3 separate regions of the Homo sapiens genome follow, and regions 1 and 2 are each linked to region 3. The links come from fine-mapping of genetic effects on gene expression. A gene starts in region 3. Each other region holds a variant in brackets. All regions are shown on one strand. Distances are from middle to middle.

Region 1 (6,225 bases), 100 kb before region 3:
TCTACCCACTTTCCTCAAAATTCCGAGACATCAGACTCACCTCCAGTTCATCTCCAGTTCATGTGACAGCTGCTGTCCCTGCTGGTGAAGTGGCTGTGCTGTCTGGGGTATACACCCTGGGGTTCATCGTCACACACCAAGAATTCAGGACACAATCACATGTGGGTGGGTTAGGGAGTGGAAAATTTAATAGATAGAAGAAAGGAGAGAGGAGAGCAGCTCTTAGAGAGAGAGAGAGAGAGAGACATCTGAAAAGTGGGGAGGCAGTGGACCAAAACAGATATAATAAGTTGGAGAAGGCGGTGTCTGATTTACATAGGGCTCACAGACTGGTTCCATCAGGTATGACGTCTACATAGTGTGCGGGGGAAGGCTGGTTGCCCCACCCTAATCTAATTATGCAAATAGGCTTTCCAGTTGATCAGAGCCATCTTCTCTGCTCCTTACAATACACTTGGCTGGCAGGGAAGGGAAGATGGAGCCACCAGTTTGAAAATGTCTAGTCCTTAGTTCCTGCTGGCATTCACCTATGCAAGCTCCCAGCTTGCAGGCTGCTCTTTGTTAGAAAATGACTTGGGGCTGCTTTTCATTAAAAAGAAAAGCCTTACCCAGGACTCCCATGCCCTTGCTATCTGCCTAAGCAATTCCTTCTTAACTCCTATATCCCTGGGGAGATGGTAGGAGTGCTGCCCCTGTCTCCTTGCTTGAGAGGGGAACTGCCCCAGGGAACCACCGCCATCTTTCTCTATTGCCTGTGTGACTGCAGCATGGTGAGGTTCTAAGTCCCTGTACCCCTTTTGACTAAGGATGTTTTCCTTCTTCCCCATGATTTTGCTGGAGAATGAGAGGCAGAATTAAAACGTGCTGCATTTGTATTCAGATGTAAAGTTTGTGTCTCTGCAGAAAGCATTGCTTGTGTAGAGAAGGAAAGCATATTGTTTTAGTCCACAGGGGAGCTAGAAATGTGATCAGTCATCAGAATAAGGCAGATGTGTGCTAAATATTTCAGTCACTTATTAGCAGATAATTTATTGGCTTATTATCAAATGTAGCAAATATTTGCCATGTCTGCTTTGGGTTACTTTTTTTGGGAAGCCTTAGGCCGATTTTTGGCAACAGGGATTGAAAACATTTTACCACTTCCCTTACTGAAAAGGCCTTGTTGCCTGGGTGGGTGCCCAAGTCGTTGGTCTCACAGCTGAGGAAATCGACGATGCAGACACACCAAGGACGAGGTCAGAGCAGAAGCAGAAGTTTAACAGGTGAAAGAAAGAGAACAGTTCTCTGCTGCAGAGAGGGGTCCCAGAAAGGGTTGCCGTCCCACAGTAAAATGAAAGGGTTTTTTTCATGCGCGTCCGTGTGAAGAGACACCAAACAGGCTTTGTGTGAGCAACATGGCTGTTTATTTCACCTGGGGGCAGGCGGGCTGAGTCCGAAAAGAGAGTCAGCGAAGGGAGATAGGGGTGGGGCCGTTTTATAGGATTTGGGAAGGTAATGGAAAATTACAGTCAAAGGGGGTTGTTCTCTGGTGGGCAGGGGCGGGGGTCACAAGGTGCTCAGTGGGGGAGCTTCTGAGCCAGGAGAAGGAAATTCACAGGGTTAATCACTCAGTTAAGGTGGGGCAAGAACAAATCACCATGGTGGAATGTCATCAGTTAAGGCGGGGCAGGGCCTTTTCAGTTCTTTTGTGATTCTTCAGTTACTTCAGGCCATCTGGGCGTATACGTGCAAGTCACAGGGGATGCGATGGCTTGGCTTGGGCTCAGAGGCCTGACATTCCTGCCTTCTTATATTAATAAGAAAAATAAAACAAAATTGTGTTGAAGTGTTGGGGCGGTGAAAATTTTTGGGGGGTGGTATGGAGAGAGAATGGGCGATGTTTCTCAGGGCTGCTTCAAGCGGGATTAGGGGCGGCGTGGGAACCTAGAGTGGGAGAGATTAAGCTGAAGGGAGGTCTTGTGGTAAGGGGTGACATTGAGGGGGTTGTTAGAAGAAACATTTGTCATACAGAAAGATTGGTGATGGCCTGGATACGGTTTTGTATGAACTGAAAAACTAAATGGAATAAGAGAAGGAGAAAAACAGGTATAAAAGGACTAAGAATTGGGAGGATCTAGGACATCTAATTAGAGAATGCCTAAGGAGGTTCAGCATAGTCCTTCCAGCGAAGATTATTTATTTACTTCAAGAGTTAAGAGTGGCAGTTTGGGGATAGCATGAGGAGATATCAGCCATGATGGCTTGGAGAAACAGTGTAAACTGGCAGTGTAAACAAGAGCAGGGCATGTATGAGTAGTTGAGAACGGAGAATAGGAGTATGACTAGACGGAAAATAGTAGGGATGACAAGTTTTTTTGGGGGCACAGTCTAAGTTGGTCTGGTGTCTGGGATGAGACTGGGGCCTAATAAAAAGGAGCTTAAATGGACTGTACCTTGTAGCATTCTGAGGACAGGTCTGACTTCTGAGAAGGGAAAGTGGTAAAAGTATTGTCCAGTTCTTTTTAAGTTGGTGGCTGAGCTTGGTGAGGTGTGTTTTTAAAAGACCTTTAGTCCGTTCTACTTTTCTTGAAGACAGAGGACTATAAGGGATATAAACTGAAAAACTGCTTGGCTAATTTGACTAATAAAGCCTGGTCTGTTATCAGACTGTATAGAGGTGGGAAGGCTAAACTGAGGAATTATGTCTGACAGAAGGGAAGAAATGACTGCGGTGGCCTTCTCAGACCCTGTAGGAAAGGCCTCTACCTATCTAGTGAAAATGTCTACTTAGACTAAGAGGTATTTTAGTTTTTGTGACTCGGGGCATGTGGAGTAAAGCTAATTTGCCAGTCCTGGGCGGGGGCAAATCCTCGAGCTTGATGTGTAGGGAAGGGAGGGGCCTGAATGATCCTTGAGGAGTAGCAGAATAGCAGATAGAATAGCAGATGGAACACTGAGAAGTTATTTCCTTGAGGATAGATTTCTACAATGGAAAGGAAATGAGAGGTTCTAAGAGATGGGCTAGTGGCTTGTAATATGGGGAAATGGGGTGAATGTCAGGTGGATCAGAGAGATGCAGTCATGGGGATCAGGTGTGGTATCAGGAATAATGTGGGAGGCCAGATTGAAGTCTGGGCCAGGAACAATGGTAATTGTGGGACTTAACAAAGAATGAGTACAGCTGAAGGAGCCGGGGAGCAGAAAGTATATGCGTCAGGTATGAGGAAGAAAATAGATTTTGGAAGTTATGAGAAATGTAGAGAGTGAGTTGAACATAGTTTGTGATTTTTAGGGCCTCTAAAATTATTAAAGCAGCGGCAGCTGCTGCATGCAGACATGAGGGCTAGGCTAAAACAGTAAGGTCAAGTTGTTTGGACAGAAAGGCTACAGGGTGGGGTCCTGGCTCTTGTGTAAGAATTCTGAC[C/T]GCACTAACCATGCCTAGGAAGGAAAGGAGTTGTTGTTTTGTAAGGGATTGAGGTTTGGGAGATTAATCAGACACCATCAGCAGGGAGAGCACCTGTGTTTTTGTGAAGAATTATGCCGAGGTAGGTAACGGATGGAGAAGAAATTTGAGCTTTGGAGGGGGATACCCGATATCCTTTGGAGAATAAATGCTGAAGGAGCAGAAGTATGTCTTGTTGAGAAGATTCAAAGGAGGGGCTACAAAGAAGAAGGTCATCAATATATTGAATAAGGTGAGAAGTGGAGGGGTGGAAAGAAAGTAGATCATGAGAAAGAGCTTGGCTGAAGTAATGAGGGCTGTCCCTGGAACCTTGCGGCAGCACAGCCCAGGTAAGCTGCTGAGCCTAATGGGTGTCAGGGTCAGTCTAAGTGAAGGCAAAGAGAGGCTGAGATGAAGAGTGCAAAGGAATAGTAAAGAAAGCATGTTTGAGATCCAGAACAGAATAATGGGTAGTAGAGGGAGGTATTGAGGATAGGAGAGTATATGGGTTTGGCACCACGGGGTGGATAGGCAAAACAATTTGGTTGATAAGGCACAGATTCTGAACTAAGTTGTAAGCCTTGTCTGGTTTTAGGACAGGTAAAACGGGGGAATTGTAAGGAGAGTTTATAGGCTTTAAAAGGCCATGCTGTAGCAGGTGAGTGATAACAGGCTTTAATCCTTTCAAAGCATGCTGTGGGATGGGATATTGGCATTGAGTCGGGTAAGCGTGATTAGGTTTTAATGAGATGGTAAGGGGTGCATGATCGGTCGCCAAGGAGGGAGTAGAGGTATCTTATACTTGTGGGTTAAGGTGGGGGAATACAAGAGGAGGACGCAAAGGAGGCTTTGGATTGGGAAGAAGGGCAGCAATGAGATGCAGCTGTAGTCCAGGAATAGTCAGGGAAGCAGATAATTTGGTTAAAATATCTCGGCCTGATAAGGGAACTGGGCAGGTGGAGATAACTAAAAAAGAGTGCATAAAAGAGTGTTGTTCAAGTTGGCACCAGAGTTGGGGAGTTTTAAGAGGTTTAGAAGCCTGGCTGTCAATACCCACAACAGTTATGGAGGCAAGGGAAACAGGCCCTTGAAAAGAAGGTAATGTGGAGTGGGTAGCCTCCATATTGATTAAGAAGGGGACAGACTTACCCTCCACTGTGAGAGTTACCTAAAGCTCGGTGTCCATGGTGGTCTACAGGGCTTCTGAGGCGATCAGGCAGCGTCAGTCTTCAGCCACTAAGCCAAGAAGGAGTCAGTCAGAGAGCCTTGGGCCAGAGTTCCAGGGGCGCTGGGAGTGGCTGCCAGGTGAGTTGAACAGTCCGATTTCCAGTGGGGTCCCGCACAGATGGGACATGGCTTAGGAGGAATCCCTGGGCTGCAGGCATTCCTTGCCCTGGTGGTCAGATTTCTGGCACTTGCAGCAAGCTCCTGGGGGAGGAGGTTCTGGAGGAATGTCTGGCCACTGCGGTTCAGGCATTTGGAAGTTGTTGTGTGCTGGAGATGTGGCTGGGGTTTGTCTCACAGTGGAGGCAAGGAATTGCAACTTCCTTTTTTTTATTATTGTACACCTTGAAGGTGAGGTTAATTAAGTCCTGTTGTGGGGTTTGAGGGCCAGATTCTAATTTTTGGAGTTTTATTTAATGTCGGGAGCAGATTGGGTAATAAAATGTGTATTGAGAATAAGATGGCCTTTTGACCTTTTAGGGTCTAGGGCTGTAAAGCATCTCAGGGTTGCTGCCGAACGAGACATGAACTGGGCTGGGTTTTTATATTTGATGAAAAAGAGCCTAAACGCTTCTGATTTGGGATAAAGAAAAAGGAGCATTAACCTTGACTATGCCTTTGGCTCCAGCCACCTTTTTAAGAGTAAATTGCTGGGCAGGTGGGGGAGGGCTAGTCACAGAACGAAACTGTAAGCCAGACCAGGTGTGAGGAGGGGAGGCGATAAAAAGATTACAGGGTGGAGGAGCGGAGGCTGAGGAAGAATTGGGACCTAGCTTGGCCTGGCAAGGAGGGGAGAGGTCAGATGGGTCTGTAGAAAAGGAAGATTAGAAAGACTCAGTGACGCTTGGGGTTGGGACTGAGGGGACAGGCGGGAGGGAAAGAAGGAAGATTCAGAATGAGTTGCACTGGGCACAGAGACTAGGAAGGGACTGATGTGTAAAAGAATGCCTGGATGTCAGGCACCTCAGACCATTTGCCCATTTTATGACAAGAATTATTTAGATCTTGTAGGATGGAAAAATTGAAAGTGCCGTTTTCCGGCTATTTGGAACTACTGTAGAGTTTGTATTGGGGTCAAGAGGCATTGCAGAAGAAAATGAGACACTTAGATTTTAGGTCAGGTGAGAGTTGAAGAGGTTTTAAGTTCTTAAGAATACAGGCTAAGGGAGAAGAAGGAGGAATGGAAGGTGGAAGCTTGCCCATAGTGAAGGAGGCAAGCCCAGAGAAAAGAGTAGAGACACGGAGAAGGGGTGGGGGTTTCTTGCCCTCCAGAAAAGCAGAGAAAGGGTTGGGGCACAGAAATAAGGGATTGGGGCACAGAGATAAGAGGTCAGGGTGTGGAAATAAGGGATTGGGGGTTCTTGCCCCCTAGAAAAGTGGGAAGGGGGGTTGGGGCATGGAAATAAGGGATTGGGGCACAGAGATAAGAGGTTGGGGTGTGGAAATAAGGGATTGGGTCACAGAAATAAGAGGTCGGGGTGTGGAAATAAGGGATTGGGGGTTCTTGCCCCCTAGAAAAGCGGGACTTGCCACTAAGGGTGAAGGAGAAGGGGTTGAGGGGTACTTTCCCCTCCCCCAGA
Region 2 (5,000 bases), 9.0 kb before region 3:
GATGCCAGCAGCACCCCCATTTGTGGCACCCAGAAATGTTCCCAGACATTGCCAAAAGTTCCTTGGAGGGCAAAGTCATCCCCTCCTACACGGGCTGAGAATCACTGTGATACAGGCGCAATGCATCACCGCAAGTGACTTCGATTAATAAACATGAATAGACAAAAAGAGAAATAAGAACCCAACAAAATGAATTCAACTCAGAGAACTTTAAATACTGAAGTGATTACTACTCTCCTCTGAAAGCATAATTAACTAGCACAGGTAATTGATTAAACATATACATAATTCCTAAATTAAAAATCATTAGACAATCAGTGCACGCTTTTCCAATTATAGGAGAGAGTTCCTCAGGGAAGTCGACACAATCCTGTCAACACACAACAAGGCCTTCCAGGTGATCTTGTTACATGTCCAGATACCTTGGTATGGAAAAGCTAACTTCATGAAGACTGGGCGGACAATGGCTAGTGGGTGGGGGGGGTCTCTTGCTGGAGAACAGATCTCGGCCACAGGCAGCAGCAGTAGCCTCAGGTGCTACGTGGCAATAGTGTCCTTAGACACTGTGGTGGCAGGACACAGGAAAGGCTCCAATCACAGTGAGTGTCAGAGCAGCCTGAAATTCACACAGGCGGAAGGGAGTGTGTCAATCCAAGATCAGGCACAATATGAAATTTCAGGAAACTAGATAAAGCAGATAGTTGGAAAAAAAATGTGTTTCCGGGTAGTAGGGCACAACAAAGGGCTTGGGATTCATGTGAAGGACCACCTCTTAGAGGGGAATAAAGGATGGGGTGCTGGGAGGAAGGGGCTGATTGATAAGCAAGATAAACCTTCACTTCTATAGGAACCATAAAGAAACCAGTTCACCAGATGTCTTACTAAGACAGGGGATCTGTGGCAGGAGAAGACAAATGTGATCCATTTTTCAAACCTAAATTATAAATTAGAAGTCGGGGCTGGGTGCACTGGCTCACGCCTGTAATCCCAGTACTTTGGGAGGCTAAGGTGGCGGATCACCTGAGGTCAGGAGATCGAGACCAGCCCAGCCAACACGGTGAAATCCCATCTCTACTAAAAATACAAAATTACCCGGGCACGGTGGTGCACACCTGTAGTCTCAGCTACTCAGGAGGCTGAGGCAGGAGAATCGCTTGAACCTGGGAGGGAGAGTTGCAGTGAGCCAAGGTTGCTCCATTGCACCCCAGCCTGGGTGACAGAGTGAGACTCCATCTCAACATAAATAAATAAATAATAAATAAATAAATAAATACATAAAATTAGAAGTTGGATCTCAGAATCAAAACAGAAACTCAGTTGAAAGGGTATAAGCTCAGAGCGGAATCGATAGCCTGCTGAGCACTGCATAGAGTCAATTAAATTAAGGTTAAAAACATTTATGAGCAACCGCTGCATAAGGCGCTGAGAAATACAAGGAAGAACGAAGAAAAGTCCCCACCCTTGAGAAAGTCAATTCAGTGAGAATGGCACTGAGGCCAAACACACAGCAGCATGATTTCAGGATTAAGAGGAGTACAGGTCACGTTGAACAGGGTCTTGGAGAAGGTAAGGATGCATTCTGATGGAACGGACTAGAGTAAACTTCATGGTGGTGTTGCTAAAGGACCTGGGCCTTCGAGGAGGAGGAGAATTGTGGAGGGCGAACAAAGTCGAGAAGGACATGCCTGGCTGAGAGCACAAATGTGATAAGGCAACAAAACACAAGGACGCTTCGCGGAAATGTGACCACACTTTGGAGACGATAGGTAGCACTGCAGACTTCCCAGAAGAGAAGTGACACCATTTTATCTAAGTAATGAGTTCAAAGGTATTTCATTCATAACTGTTGACTAAAGAAAGAATGGGTCCCAGAACCTGTGTCAGGGCTCCACAGACAGGGACATATGGCAGCTTGGGCAGGTGGTCGCATGCAGGTGGAGGGCCAGGTGAGGACAGCGGGGAGGGAGGCAGGTGAGTGGGTGCTGGGGGAGACGGGCATGTGGAGGAGGGGGTGGGACAAGCGACTGGGCCCGAGAAGTCAGAGGGAAGGGGATTTTTTGAAGGTTGTAGCAAACAGGCCAAGGGTCCTCATCACGGCCAACGCAGTAACATTTTGAGAACTGGAAGGGACAAAGTGACGGCCAGGAAGCGCCAAAGGTGCAAAGGAGGTCTTTTTTTTTTTTTTTTTTTTTTTTACCAGCACAATATTTTATTTAGCTGCCGTATTAGAAGCAGTACCTTTTTAAGGCAAATTATTTTAAAATGACACCAAACGCACAAACCATGAATAAAAAAAAAGAAAACGGATTCATGTCTCTCTATAAACATTAAAAATAAACATATTGACAATGCCCTAAAAATAAAATGTGTATTTTAAAAGAACAATGTAGAACATTGAAATATATTAAATAAGAGGCTTTTTTAATTCTTCAAACATCCTACAGATCCCAGATATTAAAAAATGGACAAAGAATAAAAGTTTAGAAAATAAAGGAGAAAAAATATGAAAATATGAATGGCTAATAAGTAATACACATATTCAATTTCATTAAGAATTCCAAGTAATGGATATGAGACTACGTAACATTCATTCTATCTATCAAAATAACACAGTTTTAAAACTTTTTATTACAAACATTTCAGACATAAAGAGAATATGCAGTGAAACTCCATGCACCCATTCCAAGCCTTGGGGCTGTCAATTTTATCCATTTTTATCCATTTTTTATTCATTTTTCACTTAAATCCCAGAAATCATGTCATTTCAGCTGTAAATGTTTGTACATGTGTCCTTAACTGACAAGAACTTTTTTTTTTTTAACATAGCAAGGATTTTCTCACGCAGCTAAAGGGAACATTGCTAAGCAAAGGCCTCCAGAAAAGTCCCACAGTCCTGCGTGGGTAGAGAATCCCACGGCGCATTTTAACCAGGGTGA[AGACTCCAATCGTGTTGGAG/G]GAACATTTAAAGTGAAGATGGAGCTCTTTATCTGTGCCTTCATTAAAAGGTGGAATTCTGTCTGAGAAGGAGCTTCTGCACATTCTGAGAAGCCCCCACTGCTCCTCTTACTGTAGCAGCCTTCTCCCCAGACCAGGCTTGGAGTTAACAATTCCCAGCTTAGAGATTCATGTGTCCCTTGCTGAACACATTCTTTCCAGGGCAATAGTGTGCTTCAAAAAGTTGAGCTTTTGGTCCATTATGATACCAAACTATTTCAAAAAGCCATTCTTGCCCAAATGACAGCAAATCAAGGTCTTCTGAAACTGCGTCCACCCTACTCTACCCTCCAGATAGCCAGCTCTTCTGCTCAAAGAAAACATGCAGATGTTCAGGGGAAGGAATTCCCCAAAGCTGATCTCCATGGCATAATGGATATGCTGTGGACACTCCATAGAACCTGCTGCTGCTCCTTCAAACTTGGGTGGGCAAAAGTCGAAAAGGCTTTGGCCTTGATTGAAGGTTTAGCAGGAAGAAGCAGCCTCTGTTCTCCCTCTCCTCCTGAATTGGAGGCTGCTCAGAGCACTGAAAGTTAAACCTTCCTGCAGGACACAAAGAGGAATGGCTTTTAGGACATCCTCCTCATCACTGTGGTGTAGACCTGGTCCCTGGAGTTCTGTGTGATTTTTAAAGAAGTAATTTTGAAAAGTGGCAGACTCTGGGGCCATGAGGTCTACATGCAGAGCGTAGTGGGTTCATGTAAATTCTTATAAAAAGAAAAGAATGAGGGCTGGGTGCAGTGGCTCACGCCTGTAATACCAGCACTTTGAGAGGCTGAGGCGGGCAGATCACGAGGTCAGCAGATCAAGACCATTCTGGCTAACACGGTGAAACCCTGCCTCTACTAAAAAAAATACAAAAAAAAAAATGTGGTGGCATGCGCCTGTAGTCCCAGCTACTCGGGAGGCTGAGGCTGAAGAATCACTTGAACCTGGGAGGCGGAGTTTGCAGTGAGTTGAGATTGTGCCACTGCACTCCAGCCTGGGCGACAGAGCAAGACTCCATCTCAAAAAAAAAAAAAAAAAAAAAGACAAGACAAGAATGAGAAAGAGACTTTCAAGGGGGGTATGGCACTGAATTTTACATGGCTGACCGGTTAGAATCTATTAGTCAAATCTGTCATTTTGTAGGGACCCAAACTTGTTTAGTCAATGGCAAGAGGGTTTGAATTCTCTTTTTACATCTGTCCAGCTTTCCAAGTATTCCATCACCTTTAAATCCACTACCCTCTTGATTTCCATGAAATTGGACATCTGTCTTCTATCTCTTGAGCACCTATTGTATGTCTCCATTTCCCCCCTTCTCAATGTAAATTTCTCAAACTTTGGCATTCTGAGTGGTTTAGTGGTCATATTTCTTTTCTTATTTCTCTTTATGATTGTTCCTCTGATGCTATAAATAACCACCATGTCTCCAGCTTCTTTAAAAATTCTGGCTTTTCTCTTTCTATCCTGGAACCCTGGCCTAAACTCCAAACCTGTCATCATCATTTATGGAAAAATCATCCATAATCAGAAGTCCTTTTCTCTTGAGCTCCAAATCCGCTTATAGAATTAACCTCCTTTGGGAATTGCCCTTCCCTTCTTAAGAGTGCTGTATTCTCCCATCATTTGCCTCAAATTCTTGGAGTCGTTCTTGACACCTTCCTCTTCTTGACTCCTACACCAATACAGTCTTTAATACTCTTGCTTCATGTACAAAACCTGCCAAGGCTTAAGTAGTGAATGAATTCAAAACTGGCACCCCCAAACTCAGTTTCCAATTCTATTGTTCACCCTGGATAGTACAATCAGGTACACTTTTCCAAAACAGCAGAGAGTACCCCCCCCCATCAAAACAAGGACAACCCTTTCAGAGATACTCTTTTTTTTTTTTTTTTTTTTTTTTTTTGAGATGGAGTCTCGCTCTGTCACCCAGGCTGGAGCGCAGTGGCGCGATCTCGGCTCACTGCAAGCTCTGCCTCCCAGGTTCACTCCTGCCTCAGCCTCCCAAGTAGCTGGGACTA
Region 3 (5,000 bases):
GTACGTGACATTGGAGTTATTTAATCCTTAGAATTTTGGAAACATTTAGTGGAGAAACCATCTGATTCTGGAATTTTCCTTGTAGGAAGGCATTCAATTACAAATTCCATTAATTTAACATTTACGGTGTTATTTAGCTTTCCTACTTCTTTTGTCCATTTTCGTTAGTTCTTTTTTTTTTAAGAATGTATTTGTTTATGTAAATTTGTAAATTTATCTTGGTGTAAAACTGTTTGTAATATTCTCTTACTATTTTTAATTTCAGCCAGATCTGTATTGATGTCCCCTTTTCAATCTAAAATCTGTTATTTGTGCCAATTTTCTCTATTTCTCTATCCCCTTGCAAGAAAATTTTCAATCTTATTGTTTTCAAAGATAATTTTTTAAAAGATAAACAACTTTCTCTTTCCTTCCTTTCTATCCCTTCACATTATTTTATTTGTTTTATATTTCAATAACTTATGTTCTTATTATCACTATCATATCTTTCCTTCCATTTTCATAGTATTTAGTTTTTGTTCTGTTTCTAATTTCTAGACCCTTTTAACACTCATCGTATTTGTTCTCTTGTGATGCAAAGGTTTGAAGCCATACATTTCCATTTCTTAAGAGATCTTTTGCAGTAACATGGATGGAACTGGAGGCCATTATCTTAGGTGAAATAACTAAGACACAGAAAGAAAAATGCTACATGTTCTCACTTATAAGTGGGAGCTAAATAACGTGTACACTTGGGCACAGAGTGTGGAATAATAGACACTGGAGACTCAGAAGGGTGGCAAGGTGGGAGGATGGGATGGAATGAAGCATATGAAACGACTTAATCAGGACAATATATACTATTCAGTTGATGTGGACACTAAAAGCCCAGCCATGGCCACGATGCCATACAGCCACATATTGACCATACCGACACTGTACCCGAGCCCCTTCCACTCATACACAAAAGACATTAGACATGTCCTAAAAGTTCTGTTGTCATATTTGCATTGTCATTAGTTAAAATATTTTGCTTTTTAATTTATTTTGTGATTTCTTCTTGAATACATTGATTACTTAGAGATTTTATTTTATCTTATTTTTTTAGACAAAGTCTGGCTCTGTCACCCAGGCTGGAGTGCAGTGGCGCGATCAGGGCTCACTGCAAACTCCGCCTCCTGGGTTCAAGCAATTCTCCTACCTCAGCTTTCCGAGTCGCCGGGATTAAAGGCATATACCACCAAGCCCAGCTGATTTTTGTATTTTTAGTAGAGATGGGGGTTTCACCATGTTGGCCAGGCTGGTCTCGAACTCCTGACCTCAGGTGATCTGCCTGCCTCGGCCTCCCAAAGTGCTGGGATTGCAGGCGTGAGCCACCGCGCCTGGCCTAGAGATGTAATTTTTGACGTTCAAATATATGAGCACTGTTTTTGCTGCTTTTTAATATTTGCACATTGTATCTTTTTCTTTTCTATCCCTTTACATTTACTCTTTCAGAATCCTTATGTTTTACTGTTTTCAGAAAACTTAGTTTTTAAAATATTCTGCTAATCATTTTTCATATAAGTTTACATTAAATAAGCCTTTTAAAGTTTATTATAATTAAATAAAGTTTATTTTCACATGTGTTTTCATATCTACTGTCTCAGAACTTTCTCCTTGCCCTATTTTTCCTATTTTATCCCCTTTTTGCATCTTTTGAGTTGACTTTTTATGATTTTATTTTTCTCTCTTTACTAGTTTGGATATTATCTACCCCACTAATATTCTTTCAGGGGTTACCTTTGAGGTTACAACTGGCAAGGTAGGTTTATCAGTGTATAATATTAAATATTATTTTACCCCTCCAAATTTTACTGCCTTTTTAGTTATTCTTTATTCTTTCCTTTATCTCTAAGCATTCTGAGTCTGTCAGTGTTTAATTCCTTTCATTTTTATTTTTTTTCCTAAAAATATCCTTAACTCCCTTTCATTATTACAGGAATTTTTGGGGGGCAGTTATTTTATTTGAGCATGTTAACTATGTTATTTCATTGTCTTTGGACTTCAGTTGCTACTTTTCGAAGATAGTACATATTTTTACCTCTAACTGCTTTTAAAATTAATTCTCGGTCTTTATTTTATAGGTGTTTTACTATGATACACCTAGGAAAGTTTTATGTATCCTACTTAGGCTTTGCAAAGGTTTCTGTTTCATTTTTACAAACGTTGGATTGATTATGGTGTAATTTAGAGACAGTGAGATTCACCTTTTTTAGACATACACATCTGTGCATCTGCAGACATGAGCACTCCAGGTTGTCTATAACACCACATGTCCTTCTGAACTTCATCTCCTGCCATTACGCCCAGCCTCCAGCAACCACTCAGCTGTTTTCTGTCTCCAGCTTTGCTTTTCCCCAAATGTTACATAAGCAGGATCACACTTAGTCTTTTGATTTTTTTTTTTTAACCTCAACACAATGCTTTAGCCATCCCTTTTTTTTATGATGCTCATTATAGTTGATCACTCTTATTTATTGCAGGCTTCATCCATGTGCTAGTTCAGCCTGTGAGATGCTGGTGAGCCCACCTCCAGGCACTCACGGACTCCCCACCCATTGAGTGTGGCCTGGATTTAGTGACTCAATCAAACGTGACAGAGTGCTGGGGTGTCATTTTCAAGACTGGGTTATGTGAAGACTGCAGCCTCCATCTGGGGTGCTCTCTCTTGGATTGCTTGCTCAGGGATGTGGGGAGAGCTGCTGTGCTGGGAGGCTGCCCATGTGAGTTGACTTGGATGTGAACCTTCTGTGGCCTGCCAATAGCCACGTGAGTGACCTTGAAAATGGATCAGCCTTCACTCAAGTCTCAAGATGACTGTGGTCTTGGCTGACAGCTTGATTGCTGTCTCATGGGGGACCTTAAACCAAAGGCACCCTGCTAAGCCACACACAGCTTCCTGGCCCACAGAAACTATGAAATAATAACCATTTCTTATATAAGCCTCCAAGTTTTGGGAGTAATATTTTGCACAGTGATGGATCACTAATACAAGCCAGTCATCAGTTGAAAGACACTGAATTTATTTCCAGTTTTATGTGATTATGAATAATGTCACCATATGCATTTGCATACAGGTGTTTGTGTGGACACTGCTGTCATTTCTCTTGGGAAGATACTGAGGAGTCAGATTGCTGGATCCCGTGAAGAATGTATGTTGAATGTTATAAAAATCTGCCAACTTAAATCTGTTTCCTGGTGCTCTTTCGTCAGCATTGGGAGATGCTCTAACATTTCTCACCAAGTCTTTCTTCTGCTCATGCGCTCCCTCTTCTTTCCCTAAGACTTCAATCATCCTCCTCATTGCCCTTTATATCTCTAAACCATTGTCTGGAGTTTCCATTCTTCCCTTTTGCTTCAATCTGTTTCATTCTGGGGATTTTCTGAGTTATCTTCCACTTCTCCAGTTATTTTTTATTTGTTTTGTTTTTAAACAACTATATCTAATTAAATTTAACTTTATCCTCTGTTGTACTCAATTTTATTACTGCATTTTCCAATTTCAGAATTTCCATTTGACGATTTCCTTATAGTTTCCTATTTCTGCTGAAATTCTCGTTGTTTTATTTCGTGGGGGGCTGAGTAAACATACTTATTTTAAGGCATGTGTCTTTGAATTCCAACCTTTTGAATCCCTGTGGACATATTGCAATTGGCTGCCGTCTCTGCTTTTAATTTTTTATCTTATTTTGTGTGCTCCTATGCCTGGTTATTTCTAACTGTGTTGGACTTTGCATTTGAAAAATGGTTTCTATGAATGTTTTGAAGCCTAGGATGCTATTACTGCCCTTTGGGGAAAATGTACACGTGTTTCTCCCAGGTACCTGTAGGCCTGGTTACATCTGGGCAACTCAACATGGTTCTTGGTTCTGGTTCACTCTGACTCTTGGGAAGAACACTTGAAGGCCCCACCCCAAGGCCTTGGTGGGGCCACGACTCAGTTTCTTGCCCTGTAATTTGAGAAGGCAGTCAGAAGCACAACTTGACTTCTTAGCTGCCTTCTCTGAACAATGTGGGTACCCTTATGTCCCCATGAGCCAAGCTTCAAGTGTGGGCTTCCTTGCTTCGGCTCACCTTGCACCCCACTCCCAGGTCTTCAACTGCTTCCCAGCATTTCAGCATCATGATGGTTCTCCCACGCCTCTAATTAGACTAAACAAACATGCTTTTCCCAGCCCTGCGGGAGGCCCTCAGGAATAGTTGGTCTGAGTCTTCCCATCAGTTATTCCCAGACGCCTTTGTCTTCTTTTATTTGTGAGAGAAAATACTTGCGTGATCCTCAGCTTTTGTACCTGCAATCAAGCCACTTTCTAAATGTGGCACTCATTGATGTACTTAAAATACCTGAAGCCAGTCTGGCACTTATCATTTCTTTAATATTATTTTCCTTCACATTTCTTAGTTTCCAGAATAATTTTTTAATTAAAAATATTGGTAGAGAATCTATTGCCTTCTTCTGCTCAGTATAAGACTAATTTTGGACCAGTTCTTTTAGATTAACACTCCATAAAATTTCGGAAAAGTCAACAAGGAGTGAATAGAATTCCAATTCTTTAACTGAAGCAATCATATGCTGACAATAATACTTGCAGGGGAGTTTCATGGTTTATATTCTATTTTCCAGTTCTTAACCCTACTTCATTTTCATATTTTAAATCCATTCCTCCCAGAAAGTTGATACAGCCTAAAACTTTTGTACATTTACTTCTGAGTTTAAAAAGTGCTTACCATTTGAGATGGAATTTCCATTTTCAGCAGTTATAGCACTAGATAGTGAATTAGATAACTGAATTCCATGGTTATTTGCATTTCTGTCTTGAGTCTCGGAAGTAATTTCTGACGTACTAGGGTCATCTCGGCTACTTATGTTCATGTTAGTTTCAAAACCTAAAATAAATTTTAGAAAACATAATTATTTTCTGATAACATGTACTGAATATACTGAATAAAACATTTGGAGAAAATAATAAAACATCAAA

What was found. PIP is the estimated chance that this variant, and not a neighbour inherited with it, causes the effect.
Region 1: its variant is fine-mapped to the expression of MYO16-AS1 in whole blood (INTERVAL, PIP above 0.99). The same link has a PIP of 0.9 or more in tibial nerve.
Region 2: its variant is fine-mapped to the expression of MYO16-AS1 in whole blood (TOPMed, PIP 0.94).

Annotation. Positions count from the first base shown.
Region 1 is chr13:109,266,235-109,272,459 of GRCh38, reverse strand. LINC03061 (long intergenic non-protein coding RNA 3061) reads right to left here. Exons shown (of 2, transcript NR_185883.1): 2 at 1,385-4,849. LOC130494219 (a long non-coding RNA gene) reads right to left here and starts at 257. Exons shown (of 2, transcript NR_185888.1): 1 at 41-257. RefSeq lists enhancers at 985-1,713, 4,231-5,189. The variant C/T (reference allele first, on the strand shown) is at 3,404.
Region 2 is chr13:109,173,773-109,178,772 of GRCh38, reverse strand. All of the region lies in intron 33 of MYO16 (myosin XVI), which reads right to left. Among named protein-coding and RNA genes, the nearest start is that of MYO16-AS1, 9.0 kb to the right of the region's middle. The variant AGACTCCAATCGTGTTGGAG/G (reference allele first, on the strand shown) is at 2,937.
Region 3 is chr13:109,164,809-109,169,808 of GRCh38, reverse strand. MYO16-AS1 (MYO16 antisense RNA 1) reads left to right here and starts at 2,506. Exons shown (of 3, transcript NR_047700.1): 1 at 2,506-2,790; 2 at 3,099-3,173. It overlaps MYO16 (myosin XVI), which reads right to left. Exons shown (of 35, transcript NM_001198950.3): 33 at 4,750-4,908.